Regions from separate parts of the Homo sapiens genome. Here all the other regions are reported to be linked to region 5. Evidence: microRNA targets listed by miRTarBase, many of them from high-throughput screens and not tested one by one. Region 5 holds a microRNA gene; each other region holds the end of a gene's coding sequence.

What was found. Region 5 holds the annotated microRNA hsa-miR-6507-5p (GAAGAAUAGGAGGGACUUUGU, at 1,824-1,844, shown strand). A microRNA usually pairs through its seed, bases 2 to 8, with sites in the 3' UTR of a target mRNA and lowers its output. Matches are read on the target gene's strand: a 7mer-m8 pairs with bases 2 to 8, a 7mer-A1 pairs with bases 2 to 7 and ends in A, and an 8mer does both.
Region 1: miRTarBase lists MOB1A as a target of hsa-miR-6507-5p. Seed matches in the 3' UTR shown: 7mer-m8 at 706-712, 7mer-m8 at 857-863, 7mer-m8 at 1,521-1,527 and 7mer-A1 at 2,023-2,029.
Region 2: miRTarBase lists ARL6IP1 as a target of hsa-miR-6507-5p. Seed matches in the 3' UTR shown: 7mer-A1 at 1,575-1,581 and 7mer-A1 at 1,484-1,490.
Region 3: miRTarBase lists NLGN4X as a target of hsa-miR-6507-5p. Seed matches in the 3' UTR shown: 7mer-A1 at 1,494-1,500.
Region 4: miRTarBase lists EFCAB14 as a target of hsa-miR-6507-5p. Seed matches in the 3' UTR shown: 7mer-A1 at 794-800.

What each region holds. Positions count from the first base shown.
Region 1 is chr2:74,153,812-74,156,979 of GRCh38, reverse strand. MOB1A (MOB kinase activator 1A) reads left to right here. Exons shown (of 6, transcript NM_018221.5): 6 at 335-3,168. The coding sequence ends at 412. Among named protein-coding and RNA genes, the nearest start is that of BOLA3-DT, 7.4 kb to the right of the region's middle.
Region 2 is chr16:18,790,527-18,793,526 of GRCh38, forward strand. It overlaps ARL6IP1 (ARL6 interacting reticulophagy regulator 1), which reads right to left. Exons shown (of 6, transcript NM_015161.3): 6 at 1,143-2,844. The coding sequence ends at 2,726. Among named protein-coding and RNA genes, the nearest start is that of RPS15A, 1.7 kb to the left of the region's middle. RefSeq lists an enhancer at 1-45.
Region 3 is chrX:5,890,184-5,893,335 of GRCh38, reverse strand. NLGN4X (neuroligin 4 X-linked) reads left to right here. Exons shown (of 6, transcript NM_181332.3): 6 at 1-3,152. The coding sequence ends at 519. Among named protein-coding and RNA genes, the nearest start is that of LINC03070, 170 kb to the right of the region's middle.
Region 4 is chr1:46,675,642-46,678,809 of GRCh38, forward strand. It overlaps EFCAB14 (EF-hand calcium binding domain 14), which reads right to left. Exons shown (of 11, transcript NM_014774.3): 11 at 1-2,995. The coding sequence ends at 2,820. The region is part of intron 1 of EFCAB14-AS1 (EFCAB14 antisense RNA 1); the gene reads left to right. Among named protein-coding and RNA genes, the nearest start is that of EFCAB14-AS1, 3.2 kb to the left of the region's middle.
Region 5 is chr10:98,923,219-98,926,386 of GRCh38, reverse strand. It overlaps MIR6507 (microRNA 6507), which reads left to right and starts at 1,819; the gene lies at 1,819-1,888. The region is part of intron 3 of HPSE2 (heparanase 2 (inactive)); the gene reads left to right.

The DNA.
Region 1 (3,168 bases), not on the chromosome of region 5:
TATATCACAATATCATACCTATATTTTTAAAAAGAGAGGGCTGGACGTGGTGGCTTACCCCTGTAATCCTAGCACTTTGGGATTTGGGATGCCAAGGTGGGCAGATCACTTGAGGCCAAAGTTCAGTACCAGCCTTGGCAACATAGACCACATCTGTACAAAAAAGAAAAAAAAAAGAAAAAGAATAAATGCCTACTTTAAAATGTTCACAGAGGTTATTTCATCATTCTTTTGGACTTCAGAAAACTAGAGTTGGGAATCCCTTCTCCAAAAGACATTTACAGAGTTTCAGTTTTAGATCCATTTTTAATTGTTATTTTTCTTCTCTTTTTAGGAGTTTAATCTGATTGATAGGCGTGAGCTGGCACCTCTTCAAGAATTAATAGAGAAACTTGGATCAAAAGACAGATAAATGTTTCTTCTAGAACACAGTTACCCCCTTGCTTCATCTATTGCTAGAACTATCTCATTGCTATCTGTTATAGACTAGTGATACAAACTTTAAGAAAACAGGATAAAAAGATACCCATTGCCTGTGTCTACTGATAAAATTATCCCAAAGGTAGGTTGGTGTGATAGTTTCCGAGTAAGACCTTAAGGACACAGCCAAATCTTAAGTACTGTGTGACCACTCTTGTTGTTATCACATAGTCATACTTGGTTGTAATATGTGATGGTTAACCTGTAGCTTATAAATTTACTTATTATTCTTTTACTCATTTACTCAGTCATTTCTTTACAAGAAAATGATTGAATCTGTTTTAGGTGACAGCACAATGGACATTAAGAATTTCCATCAATAATTTATGAATAAGTTTCCAGAACAAATTTCCTAATAACACAATCAGATTGGTTTTATTCTTTTATTTTACGAATAAAAAATGTATTTTTCAGTATCCTTGAGATTTAGAACATCTGTGTCACTTCAGATAACATTTTAGTTTCAAGTTTGTATGGTAGTGTTTTTATAGATAAGATACGTCTATTTTTTCAAAATTCATGATTGCAGTTTAAATCATCATATGACGTGTGGGTGGGAGCAACCAAAGTTATTTTTACAGGGACTTTATTTTTTGATCTTTATTTGAGATTGTTTTCATATCTATCTAAATTATTAGGAGTGTGTGTATCAGAAGTAATTTTTTAATGTCTTCTAAGGATGGTCTTCCAGGCTTTTAAACTGAAAAGCTTAATTCAGATAGTAGCTTTTGGCTGAGAAAAGGAATCCAAAATATTAATAAATTTAGATCTCAAAACCACTATTTTTATTATTTCATTATTTTTCAGAGGCCTTAAAATTCTGGATAAGAGAATGGAGGAAAATACTCAGAGTACTTGATTATTTTATTTCCTTTTATTAAAAAATTACTTCTATGTTTTTATTGTCTCTTGAGCCTTAGTTAAGAGTAGTGTAGAAATGCATGAACTTCATCCTAATAAGGATAAAACTTAAGGAAAACCACAATAAACCATGAAGGTGTACACATCTTATAACACAGATAAAGTTTTGGTGTGCTACCTATTCTTGAGAGAGTGAGTGAGTGTATGTGTTTAAAGGAAACAAAATGGGAGAAATAAGTTTTAAAAAAATCCTCATTTTGTTAATATTCAAAAGATGGACTGAGCTTCCACTTGGGTTTTATCTTGTTTTAATTGTTTTTGTATCAAAACTTGAAATTCCTCTATTTCTATTGGGATATAAAAGCCTTCCCCTTCAGTGAAGAAAACATTTATTTTTTATTTGATTCCTAGGATTTAGTAAACTCTAGCTGTCTATTTAAAATGTACTGAGGCACAACAAGTATTATACTGGAAGACTTGCCAAACTGGCAAAGCTTTAAGTTCATCAGCATTCTATGTGGTTCAGAGCTGTGATTTTTGCAAAGTATTTTACCAACCTCCTCGATGGCTTTGATAAAGGTTAGATTTGATGTTTTTTTTTAGATTTATTTTTCTTACTCCACTAAACTATAAAGAAAATAATTACTTAGAAACTCCATTTTAAATAATCATTTCCTAGAAATTCTTAAATATATACAGAATTTTAAAGAAAACATTTCATCTGATTTAGTTAGCATCCACATATCATTGAGGAATTAAAGTGTGGGACAGTCATTATTAAAAAAAAGAGAGAAAAGCCCTCTATTAGACATTCCACAATCCATGTTTTAAGCTTATCCAAAGGTCCAAATGTCAGCCATTCTGTATGTTCATGTTGATCATTTGCGAACAAGAAAGCAGGTTTCTAGGTATCACTTAGGATGTGAACTGCCTCTCAACTTTAAACCCTGTTAGCTTTACTTTTTTAAGTCCACAAGTGATGAAACTAGTTTCTCAGCTAGGCTTGTACTTTCCTCATTATTTCTAGTATTTCAAATATTCTCAAACAAAAGAGTTACCACTTTTCTCCATTTATTTTCAGTTATGGAAATGTTCCCTCTCTTCACCACTAAGCTCCAAAGCAAATGAAAGACGATCACATGTCAGGACAGTAGTAAAGGCAGCTTATAAATGGGACATAAATCAGAGATGTGTTGGTATTTTGAGACTCAAGACTGTCCTTTTTTAAAATAAAAATAAAAACATTACCAGGTTCCCAAGCCAATCTGGCTTAACCAACAGTGCACTGAAATATTAGTGTTTACCTCCAAGGCTAGGGAGCCAAGGGGAGGAGGAGAATTGGAGGAAGGGGAGATAATGGGAAGAGGATGGCGCCTTCCTGAGTTGGCTAGAGGGCCAACCTTTGATAACAGTTTGACGAAATCAATCTTTTTTTTTTTTTTTTTTGAGACAGAGTCTCACTCTGTCACCCAGGCTGGAGTACAGTGGTGGGATCTCGGCTCACTGCAAGCTCTGCCTCCCAGGTTCATGCCATTCTCCTGCCCCAGCCTCTCCTGAGTAGCTGGAACTACAGGTGCCCGCCACCACGCCCAGCTAATTTTTTCTATTTTTAGTCATGCCTGGCTAATTTTTTGTATTTTTAGTAGAGATGGGGTTTCACCGTGTTAGCCAGGATGGTCTCCATCTCCTTACCTCGCAATCCGCCCGCCTCAGCCTCCCAAAGTGTTGGGATTACAGGCATGAGCCACCGTGCCCGGCCTATAGAAATCAATCTTTTTGACTCTTCTCACTTTTATCTCCCCATGCCCAAGGTTTGCCTGTTCCATA
Region 2 (3,000 bases), not on the chromosome of region 5:
CCGTTCGTTGGAGGTTCGTCTACATTTTTTTTTTTTTTTTGAGACAGTTTCGCTCTTGTAGCCCAGACTGGAGTGCAGTGGCGTGATCTCGGCTCACTGCAACCTGCGCCTCCCGGGTTCAAGTGATTCTCCTGCCTCAGCCTCCTGAGTAGCTGGAACTACAGAGATGCGCCACCACGCCCGGCTAATTTTTGTATTTTTAGTAGAGACGAGGTTTCCCCAAGTTGGCGAAGATGTTCTTGATCTCCTGACCTTGCGATCCGCCCGCCTCGGCCTCCGAAAGTGCTGGGATTACAGGCGGGAGCCACCGCGCGGGCCTTAATTTTTATTTTAGTTTACTTTTGATAAGGAGTCTCGCTCTGTCGCCCAGGCTGGAGTCCAGTGGCGCGATCTTGGCGCACTGCAGCCTCCGCCTCCCGGGTTCAAGCGGTTCTCCTGCCCCAGCCTCCAGAGTACCTGGGATTACAGGCGCCCGCCATCACACCCGGCTAATTTTTGTATTTTTAGTAGAGACGGGGTTTCACCATGTTGGCCAGGCTCGTCTCAAACCCCTGACATCAAGTGATCTGCCCACCTCGGCCTCCCAAAGTGTTGGGATTACAGGCGTGAGCCACCACACCCGGCTAAAAATTTTTTTTTAATTAAAAAGTTAAGTTCAGACAAAAGTCACCCAACAGTTGTTTACTGAGCACCCATGTACCAGACGCTAGCAAGGCCCTGGGGTACGAGGTGCCCACACAGGCACCATTTAGCCAGTTCTGTCCCTGCCGGTTCTTCCAGCTTCGTCCTCTCTCACACGTCAATGCCCCTGCTCATTCGTTGCATTTCCTCTTCCCTCTAGCATGGTACCTGGATATTTGCTAAATAAAACTTAAACCTTTTATTTTTGTTCTTTTTTAAAATTTTTCCTAGACAGGGTCCTGCTCTGTTGCCCAGGCTAGAGTGCAGGGGTACACTCAGCTCAATGCAACCTCAAACTCATGGACTCCAGTGAACCTCCTGCCCAGGTCTCCCAAAGTGGTGGGATTACAGGTAGGGTACCTTATAGACATCTAAGGACCACACAGGGTACTTCATTAATCAGATTCATAAATCCAATCATAAATATTATATTGGCTAAGTTATAAAGAAAGTGAGACATGAAGATTCCAGCTTTTTTTATTTTTTCCCCTTTTACACAAAACAAAGTAGAAGAAATAATACAGGATTAAAACTGCAAAAGTAGTTAATCAGTAGAATATGTATGCACACAAAAAATCCAGATAGGAAGACAGGCTTATTTACAATGAAAGTAAGGTAAAATTAACGTAGTTTTCTTATGAAATAATAAAAAAAAATCAAACATATGCTACAATGGGCACCACTGTTCACAGCAATATTAAAGAGGAGAAAACAACACTTATTTAATAGGGACAGATATACCACAAGGTACAACATCAGTGCAATAAATTCACAAAACTATATTACAGCTAGTTAATCAGTTTAAGAATTGTTCCCGTCAGTCACATTTTTTGGCCCTCAGAAGTTCATTCCTAAAGATTTCAACTACTCTAAATTTCTAGCTACCAAGAAGTTAAGAATGATTATAAGAAGCTTTCCAAGGAGTTATGAAATCTTTGTAGACCAGAGGCCAACTATCATCACCTCAAGTCTGCTCTCACCAACAGCCCTTGTATTTTTCAGGGAGAAATCTCTAGGAAAAAAGTCAGACACCAGTGTAGTCACTATCTCCCATGTCAAACCTAGGGGACTAAAATGGTCAGTATTACCATAAAATGATAATTTTGAGGTTTACCTTAAAAGGCTTATTCTGGTCTCAAAAATTAGATAAGATTATCTTCTACTGAAATGAATATTGACTAAACATAGAAGACTGCTGTCCTTTTGCCAGTCTTAGAGTGAAAGTCATAGACATGAGTCTTAACCTACTGTATACTATAGCTAATGTCAGCTGAAAATCTGAAATTAAAAGCATGCTAGAAATCCTAAATGCAATCTTTTGGAAGTCTGCTATTAAAAAGCCTTTAAGGATTTACTAACTTCGAGTCTAAGTGCAAGGGGACGAAAGCTTAAGCCTGTCAGACATTCCTTTTCTTGGACAAAAAGATCAAAGTTTCCTACAAATTGCTAAGCTTTGCACAAGGGAGAAGCCTACATGTACTAGTGCATGGAATCAGTTTCATCTTATTTCATGGGGACTCTTCTCCCACTGGAAAGAAACAGAATGAGGAATGAATCTTAATTGGTCTCTTCATCAGAAGTGGTAAACTTGGTCTCTATATTCACGAAGTCAGACAGTTTTTTAAGCAGACTGTGGAAGCAGACAGAACCAGCTTCCTGTAGCCACAGACCACTACATGGTATCTAAGCTAAAGCAAAGATGAACAATTATCCAGATTCACTTGAACTGTACTAAAGGGCAAGGTTCACCACTACAAAAAGGAAGTTGTCTAAAAGCAAGAATTCAATTAACGCTGGGTAAGAAAAGTCAAAACACTAATGAGTTGTCCATGAAGCCAACTGCTAAGAACGCGCTCAACTATACGCGACATGAAGACACTATGCACGAAGCCTTACTTGGCGAGTCTGAATTTCTATTAACTAAGGGCAGAGTGAGGGAGAACAAAGAGCTACTTCCGTAACATTTTAGTATCCAGATAGTACAGCAGAAACGGTTCCCGGGGCAATGGGTGCTGCATTAATCACACTGATTAAAGCAGATGAATCATTCGTTTTTCTTTTCTTTTTGTTTGAGAAGTTTGTTTATCTCCCTCTTGGCCATTCCAATGTACTTCAAAATGATTCCATGTTGGTTTAGTCCAGGAAGCAATAGTAAGGAAGTCACTTAAAATAAAAAAAAACCCAACATTAAGGAGGCAGCAATTAACCTGCTAAAGGTTATTACTTTTTTTTTTTTTTTTTGAGACAAAGTTTCACTTTTGTTGCCCAGGCTGGAGTGCAATGGCGCAATCTTGGCTCACCGCAACCTCCGCCTCCCAG
Region 3 (3,152 bases), not on the chromosome of region 5:
AACAATCCCAAACACTCTAAGGACCCTCACAAAACAGGGCCTGAGGACACAACTGTCCTCATTGAAACCAAACGAGATTATTCCACCGAATTAAGTGTCACCATTGCCGTCGGGGCGTCGCTCCTCTTCCTCAACATCTTAGCTTTTGCGGCGCTGTACTACAAAAAGGACAAGAGGCGCCATGAGACTCACAGGCGCCCCAGTCCCCAGAGAAACACCACAAATGATATCGCTCACATCCAGAACGAAGAGATCATGTCTCTGCAGATGAAGCAGCTGGAACACGATCACGAGTGTGAGTCGCTGCAGGCACACGACACACTGAGGCTCACCTGCCCGCCAGACTACACCCTCACGCTGCGCCGGTCGCCAGATGACATCCCACTTATGACGCCAAACACCATCACCATGATTCCAAACACACTGACGGGGATGCAGCCTTTGCACACTTTTAACACCTTCAGTGGAGGACAAAACAGTACAAATTTACCCCACGGACATTCCACCACTAGAGTATAGCTTTGCCCTATTTCCCTTCCTATCCCTCTGCCCTACCCGCTCAGCAACATAGAAGAGGGAAGGAAAGAGAGAAGGAAAGAGAGAGAGAAAGAAAGTCTCCAGACCAGGAATGTTTTTGTCCCACTGACTTAAGACAAAAATGCAAAAAGGCAGTCATCCCATCCCGGCAGACCCTTATCGTTGGTGTTTTCCAGTATTACAAGATCAACTTCTGACCCTGTGAAATGTGAGAAGTACACATTTCTGTTAAAATAACTGCTTTAAGATCTCTACCACTCCAATCGATGTTTAGTGTGATAGGACATCACCATTTCAAGGCCCCGGGTGTTTCCAACGTCATGGAAGCAGCTGACACTTCTGAAACTCAGCCAAGGACACTTGATATTTTTTAATTACAATGGAAGTTTAAACATTTCTTTCTGTGCCACACAATGGATGGCTCTCCTTAAGTGAAGAAAGAGTCAATGAGATTTTGCCCAGCACATGGAGCTGTAATCCAGAGAGAAGGAAACGTAGAAATTTATTATTAAAAGAATGGACTGTGCAGCGAAATCTGTACGGTTCTGTGCAAAGAGGTGTTTTGCCAGCCTGAACTATATTTAAGAGACTTTGTAAAAAAGAAAAATGTATATAGCTGTGAGTTTAAACAAAAACCACAAACAGACAAACAAGAAAAAAAGCTTTTATTGGTGTTTTCACTTTGAAAGAGCTTTTAGCAAGGTTGTGCTTTTCATTGTGCTCTGTACGTATATAAATATATATATATATACACACACACACACACATTAGTCATATCACCTCTGTTTCCTCCCCAACAAAAGAGGCTTTTCTTCTTAATTACTTGTGGTAAACAAAGACATGGGATTTTCTTACATGAGATTCTCATTTGTAGGAGGATGTGATGTCCCACAGAAGACCCAGACGGTCTGTGTGGCCTATTTCCCCCGTCAGGTTGCACAGGTGCATGCAAGAGCATTCTTAGGAGACCACTGTTTTGAAAAACTTTTGACTTGTACGTGTTAGCCTTCATGAAATTGCAGTACAGAGATGGGTCCCCAAAGTGGAGTGTATTTACAGCTTGTTAAATTAGAGACATGCACACACAAAGAATCAGTAGGGAGAAACAAAAATACAAGTCCCGTTCTGTAGCTCTGGCCCTTTGAATATGTTTAGGAAGAGTTGCTTCCCATTTCAGGGCCCTGCCAAAAAAAGAAGAAAGCTTGCCTTTGGTGGGGCTATGCCCCTTGGAGTAAATACGGCTCTGTGTTCCCTAGCAGCTGCGGGAGGGTTTGGCCGATGAAGTACCTGCTCAGCTTAGCTAATCAGATTGAAGGAAGACATGTGTCTTTCCTTTTTGTTTAAGCACTCGGTCCCTTATTTATCAGTAAGCAGGTTTTTAAAAATCTTTTATATCATTTATGGGATCAAACATATGATTGTCTGAAAACATCACTTTTTGTGGATTTGTGTATCCGGTCACCAAACGGTGAATATTATAGAAGAATGGGGGAAGAAAGGATAGAATATTAAAACTGCTTTGCATGGGTTTTCTGGGAAATTAGGATAACTTCACTGAGAAGACATTGAATGGAAATTATTCACCCATTTTAAATTGGTGACCTAGGGATCAGAGATTTGTCTTTCCAACAGCTTGTCATTTTTTCATTTCTCTTCTCATTTTTCAGGAAAGTTTTGAGTGTTATAAGGTGGAAGGAAACATAGTAGCAATGGATACTTTTTTGAAAAATTATTGCATTACCAAGAAACAGTAGCCAAAGATATTTGAAGATCATGTTCCTCGGCTCCATTGTGGGTTATTCTAGAAATCCAGTCTTAAATCTCTCCGCTAAAGTGGACATTCCCCATAAAAATTGTCCAGCTGCCTGGCTCTTTTGCAATAACAACCTTTGATTACTGAATCCCTACACTCAAACTATAGTGATATATCAGTGTTTGAGAGTGACCTCTAGAAAAAAGAAAAGTGTTTTTAGAAATGCGTACAAGTCACCCCCAAATCCTATTGCTTATCTTGGGTTAAATTTGAGAGTGATTCTCTGTATATAAATATGTGAAATATTATTATCTCAACTTAGCACACGTGAAGCAACATTTCTTTCCTACAGAGAGGTGTCATGGTAAGATTTCATTCCGAATTCATTGTTTCATAGAGCTATGATCAGGCCATTTCTGCAAGCAATGTATGACCCCACCTGAGCAACCACAAATAGGCTCTCTGTGAAACTACAAAGGAAGTTATGTGTGGCATCCATGTTGGTTTCGTCTGTCTGTAATGTGAATTCCAGTATTTGTTTAGTATTTCCAGTTGTCTCCTGCTAGCAATATGTACAGTAACGCGTCAGGCTTGTGACATTTGAATAAGGAAAAACAGAGTTCCTGTTAAGTGAATAACTTTAGCTTTTACAGGGGATTATGATCAAAAGTGATTTTAGTACATCTTAAATGATATCTTATTTCTACATGGAAAGAAGTTATAGAATCTTCATAGAGTTCTATGAGAAAAAATATACTTGCTATCTATAAAAAAGAGAAAAAAGAAAAAAAATGAGAAAAAAGTAAGAAAAAAAAAAATCCTGTCCTAGGCTTTTACTCTTGATCTTCAAAGGCACGCAGGG
Region 4 (3,168 bases), not on the chromosome of region 5:
GACAATGGCCAGCAGTAGGTGAAGGGAACCCATTCTTCAGCTCTGTTGCATCATACACATTCCTGAGGGTCAGGCACCTCTGCCTTTTAGATGACACCACAGTCATCTAGAAGTCAGGTTTTCTCTTCTTTTGGTTCTTCTTTTTATATGCTACCTTTTTGCCTCTCTGATTTATGGGGAGGCTCTTTTAGTAAACATTATACAAGATAGTACAAGGCAAAAGAAAACAAGGACCAAGAAGCAGTGCTTTGAGTAACTTAGGAAAGCAGCAGTAGGAGCTGCCAGACTGAAAAGGTAAAAGGGTTTAAAACCAAAACCAAAACCAAACTCACTATCCAGTCTTCCTCTCAGAGATGAGATATGGCTGGTGAGGCTTGACTACAGCTAAATACAAGTCACAGGCTTAGTAAGTTAAGACAACATACAAATAAAAGTCCCAAATTCACACTAAATAATAGGCTTATGGGATGCTTAAGCCAGTGAGTCTGCTCAACTCAGAAGAAAGGAGTTCAAGATACCCTACTTTTGCCTGGAAGATGTACTTTCTCAGGCAGGATGACAAAAATATTCATAGATCTGAGAATGCAGTATAAACACCTCTGCCAAACTTGGTAGGGGGAGAGGATGGTACTGTATACTGGCTCAGGGGTGATACTAGTCAGACAAGCACAAGGTAGGAAGAACAGAAGATAAACCAAAAAACAAAATGGATTTCTCCATGTATAGTTATCTGATGCAAGGGAAAATACACACAACAAAGAGTTAAGGTGTCTTCAAAGTATCTGCCTATGAATAAGAATTTGAAACTAAAAAGGACAAGCTACATTACCCTCAAGTATATTTCATATAAATCAGTTCTCAAAAAAATACCTTCCAGGTACAGACATACTATTTATGGTACAGTATATACAAATATAGCAGTATAATTCAATTTATTGCTAGAATTTTATTTGGTTGTTAGAAAATCTGTAAGGGTGTATATATATTAAAAAAAGGTGTGGGGTGAGAGTGGATGGAAGGCAGTCAGAAGGGTGAGAGTTATTTTCAAGTTACCTAAAGTGCCAGGCTAATTTGTTTTAACCTTTCCAAGAAAGTGAAACTGAGCATAAGCTATAATGAGATAAGGGGACACATTCATGGGAAAAGACTTCATCTTGCTTTAACTAAATTTTAATACTTCTGGAAAAAAAATTTAAGTTTGGTTAATACCAAGCTGAACATCATGTAAAGAAAAAAAAAACAGCCCTTAAATGTTTAAGGGTACCGGACTGTATCCATGGTGAAGGGCAACCTGAACAAAGTTAAAAAGGAAATGATCTCCACTAAAGAAGTCTGTGGCATGACAGCTTTCTCTACTTTCTCCCTGACTTGGCCTATACCAAAGTTAAGTTTTTGTAGTTTTTTTTTCCCCTTTCAAGTTGTTGCCCAAAGACTGCTTCTAAGAACAACACAGCAATTCTAGACTCAACATACAGGAGACATGGAGGTATTATTCCTTTCAATCTAGGGATCTTTCATGCCAGGTCCACAGAAGCATTTAAAGGAAGTATTGTACTTGATTGTATTAGATTTGAAAAACTTGCTACCACCATGTGAAGGCCCTAGCTCCAGGCCTGCCCTGCTATACTTTGGCATCCTTTGGGTAGAAAGCCTCTAGCTACTTCTGAGCTGGTAATGGTAAGGAAACTGAATATTATTTCACATGTTTCATCTCACAGCCTTTTTGGCTTTAGTCATCCCCCAGAGAAACATATTAGGCTCTTGGTTAGCCTCTAGGTAAAATCTCAAGGGGTATGGTTTTCTGGGTCAAAATTAGAAGCACAGCTCTCTTCTAAAGCTCTGGGTGGTCAGTGTGAGATAATGGCTGGGGGAATTTAGCCCTGCCATTCAAATGGAGATGGTACTGGTGGTGGGAGCCAGCTACGGCTTTAAGACAGACTTAAGTGGGTGGGTGGGGAAGGCAATCTAGCTCACTCAGCAGGGAAAATGGAGCTCCCCAATGGATAACTTTTTATGCTCATAAACCCTGAAATAGTACTAAAAATGAGAAAAATCCCCAAGACTTCTCTGATTCCCAGGTTGGGATTAGCTGAGGGAATAGGAACAAAGAACCAGAATCCTACTTCCATGAGCCATGCCTGGAGTCAGTATTGTCTCCAGTGTCTACTCCCTGAAATCGGTTCCTCCAGCTACCAGGACAAACCCCCTGGCAGCGCCTGGGCCTTTGAGGGATACCTTATGGAGACATGGATGTAGTTTCAGCTGCCACCTACACCAGATCAGCAATTTTTAATAAGTCATTTGTTCATATCCTGTTCAAAACCATTCTTCCTACTTTCCACACAATATGCACAATGCTTTCTTTCATTTAAATATTTACAAACAGAAAAGGCCTATCTTTTAAAGAAAAGACATTTTCTGAGTCTCTATAAAGTGCAGCTAATTTAAGGCAAATTTAAGTGAAATATAAAAGTGGCTTATTCTCTCTCTATATACATTTCCCAGCTTTAAAAGATAAGGTCTCCTCCCCTCAAAAAAAGGAAAGAGAAAAAAAGAGGGCTTTAATTTTTTTTCTGGCAATTTTAAAATGTAAGATCTTACTGGTTGTAGGAAATCATAGATTTCTGAACATCATAAGTAAAATGGTCTTCTTCTTTAAAAAAATAACTTTTATATAGCTTCTTCAAACAAGTTAAAAGGTGGCAAAGTATCTGCTACAGTAGTTTGGAGGACTAGAGGACTGATGGGTAAGTAAGGGTTGTTTTGTTGTTAGGTAAATAGATATTAGGCAGTCCATTTCTAAAATATGCCTGATGAAGCTAGATACCTAAAGCTACCCTTAGCTCCAGGAATGAGTATCTTCCATCTCCATCGGAATCAAATGCTCTCAAGCTCTCTGGTTCTGGCATAGCAGAACCTAGGGAGGTCCAGATTTCCTGGTAGGTCAGCTTCCCATCCACGTCCTGGCCAGTCTTGCGGAATAAATCCTGAAGATCTGTCAAAAATGAATTACAAAAAATGTATACGTCTAAACATACAGCTAAATTTAGTTAAAAGTAGTCTCAACTGAATTTAAAACACTAAAAGAAAAGCTACTCCGCAAATTTTGTTTCCAAATGGTAAAGTTTAGGATTTCACTAAATCAGGAAGACTAATTTTTGATCCCTT
Region 5 (3,168 bases):
TGAGCTCTGTAAATTCTGTTTCACTACCATCTGGTTATATTTAATATTAATTTTGTCTCCTACTTGTAATTCTTATGTAGACCTTTCCTTCATTCCTATTGACCTTCAGACCTCCTCCCACTGGTTCAGCACCAATTTAAAAAATAAAACTTAAAAATGATGTATTTTCCAATAGCACGCATTTGTGGCTTTATAAATTCATTCAATAAGTTACTATGGCCATACAAAAAGCATGCCCTTTTGAGGTTCACTTTCTACCAGGGGGATATAGATAATAAAGAATGTATATTCAGTATTTTAAAAGGCAATGACACCTACTTCTACTGCCAAAAAGACAGAGTAAATATACTTTCCCCTATTCCTCCTATTAAGGGTAACTAAAAACTCTAAATATTATATATAAAAAACATGTAAGAAGACTCAGAGGTTGAAAAGAAGTCAGCCAAGAACCCAAGGAACAACATGATGGTGAGTTCCCTGGGTTTTCTTCTTGTCTTTAATATCCCAAACTTGGCGCTGAAGAAGCTGGAAACCTGGAAATCTCAATGAATACAAACACAAAAGACCCCAACAAAAGCCAGTTTTCTCTAGCCAAGGAGAACAATAAAGGACCAATCTAGCAAGACAGAAAGGTTTTACACAATAACCACTCCACCCTAGCCAAATGTCATAAAAAATTTGTGTCCTATTTCTCACACAAACAAAGGCTGAGTAGGGAGCCTGGACTTACCCTCATGAAACTCTAATGTGCTCCTGCAACATCCTTGCCAGGATGGTGTCCAAGTAGAGAGCCTGCACTTCATCCCCATTGGTTGATATTGAGGGAACACCCTCCCACTTCACTGCAGTATTAGTTGAGACTCTGGAGATGTGGAACTTACCCACCTGCTCAGCAATAATGAGGAGCCTCCCTTTGGTGTGAATGAAGGCTGAATGGGCAACCTGGACTTTGACATCCACCTGGCAGAAACAAAGCAGTGCCCTCACTTATACCCTGCCAGAGCAGTGTCAAAAAAAAAAAAGCCAATTAAAATAAAAGGTTTAAATAAGATCTAGGGAGGTGGAGCAAGATGGTTGGGATAGAAGCCTTCACTGTTTGTCCCTCTGGCTTGAACACCAAATCTTAACAACTATCTGTACACAGAAAAGCCCCATCACAAAAACCAACAATCAAGTGTGCAATCACAGTACTTGGATTTAACGTCATATTCACAGTACTTGGATTTAACGACAGAGGCATTGAGGAGGGCAGAAGAGATACTTTAGAATCACTGACACCACCTCACCTCCATCCCCTAGCAGTGGCCATGCAGTGCAGAGAGAGAACTTGAGCACTTTGGGGAGGGAGAGCACAGCTGCTGGGCGACTTTACATTGAACTCAGTGCTGCCCTGTTACAGTGGAGAATAAAGCTGTATTGAGCTCAGCCATTGCCTGTGCACAATGGGAGCATCTGGACCAGCCCTAGCCAGAGGGGGGTCACCCATCCCAGTGGTCCAAACTTGAGTTTCTGTGCAAACCTCACCACTTAGGGCTAAAGTGCTCTGGGGTCCTAGGTAAACTTGAAAGACAGTCTAGGACACAAAGACTGCAATTCCTAGGCAACTCCTAGTGCTAGGCTGGGCTTCAAGCCAGTGAACTAGGAGTGGAACATGACCTAGGGAGACACCAGCTGGCACAGCTATGGGAGAGTAAAGAGAAGTCATCCCTCCCCCAAACCCAGGATTGCAGCTTGTAGCAATGGAAGTGACTGTTTCTTTCCGTTTAAGGAGAGGAGATCAAAGTTAAAGGGTACTTTGTCTTACATCTTGTGGAAAGGGGAGGGAAGAATAGGAGGGACTTTGTATTGTGGTTCAGTACCATGCAAAGTCCTTCCTATTTTTCCCTCCACTTTACTTCCTTTCCCTCAACTTAGCTTCCGTAGAATAGAACATCACATAAGTTTCTAAGGTTTTTGACTCCAACTTCTGGCTCCCAGACAGCATCTCTGGACACACCTGGAGCCTACAAGAACTCACTACCCTGACGGGAAGGGCCTTGGGCAAGGCCCATTGCTGTGCTGGCTTTGGGTCTGACCCAGCACAGTCCCAGTGGTGGTGGCCACAGGGGTGATTGCATCACTACACCCCCCAGTTCCAGGTGGTTCGGCACAGAGAGAGAGAGACTCCATGTGTTTTGGGGAAAGTAAGGGAAAAGAACAAGGGTTTCTGCCTGGTAATCCAGAGCATTCTTCTGGATCTTACCCACAACCACCACAGCAGTACCTCTATGAGTGTACAAAACCCACCGTATTATTGGGCTTGGGGCCCAAGTCCCTTTGAATACCTAGAAAACCTTCCCAAGAAAGACAGGCACAAATAAGCCCAGACTGTGAAGACCACAATAAATACATAACTCTTTAATGCCCAGATGCCAAAGAACTTCTACAAGTGCCAACATCATTCAGGAAAACATTACTTCACCAAATGAACTAAATGAGGTACCAGGGATCAATCCCAGAGAGATAGATATATATGACGTTTCAGACAGAGAATTCAAAATAGCTGTTTTGACGAAACTCAAAGAAACTTAAGATAACACAGAGAAGGAATTCAATATTTTATCAGGTAAATTTAACAAAGAGATTGAAATAATTAAATAGAATCAATCAGAAATTCTAGAATTGAAAACTGTAGTTGACATGCTGAAGAATTTATCAGAGTCTCTTAATAGCAGAATTGATCAAGCAGAAGAAAGAATTAGTGAGCCTAGAGACAGGCTATTTGAAAATACACAGTCAGAGGAGACAAAAGGGAAAAAGAATAAAAAAGAATGAAGCATGCCTACAAGATTTAGAAAGTAGCCTGAAAAGGACAAATCTAAGAGTTATTGGCTTTAAAGAGGAGGTAGAGAAAGAGATAGGGATAGAAAGTTTATTCAAAGGGATAGTATCAGAGAATTTCCCAAACCTAGAGAAAGATATCAACATTCAAGTAGAAGAAGTTATAGAACACCAGGCAGATTTAACCTAAAGAAGACTACCCCAAGGCATTTAATAATCAAACTCCCAGTGGCCAAGGATAAAGAAAGATTCTAAAAGCAGCAAGAGAAAAGAAACAACACACAGTGGAGCTCCAATAGGTCTGGCAGCAGACTTTTCAGTGCAAACCTTACAGGTCAGGAGAGAGTG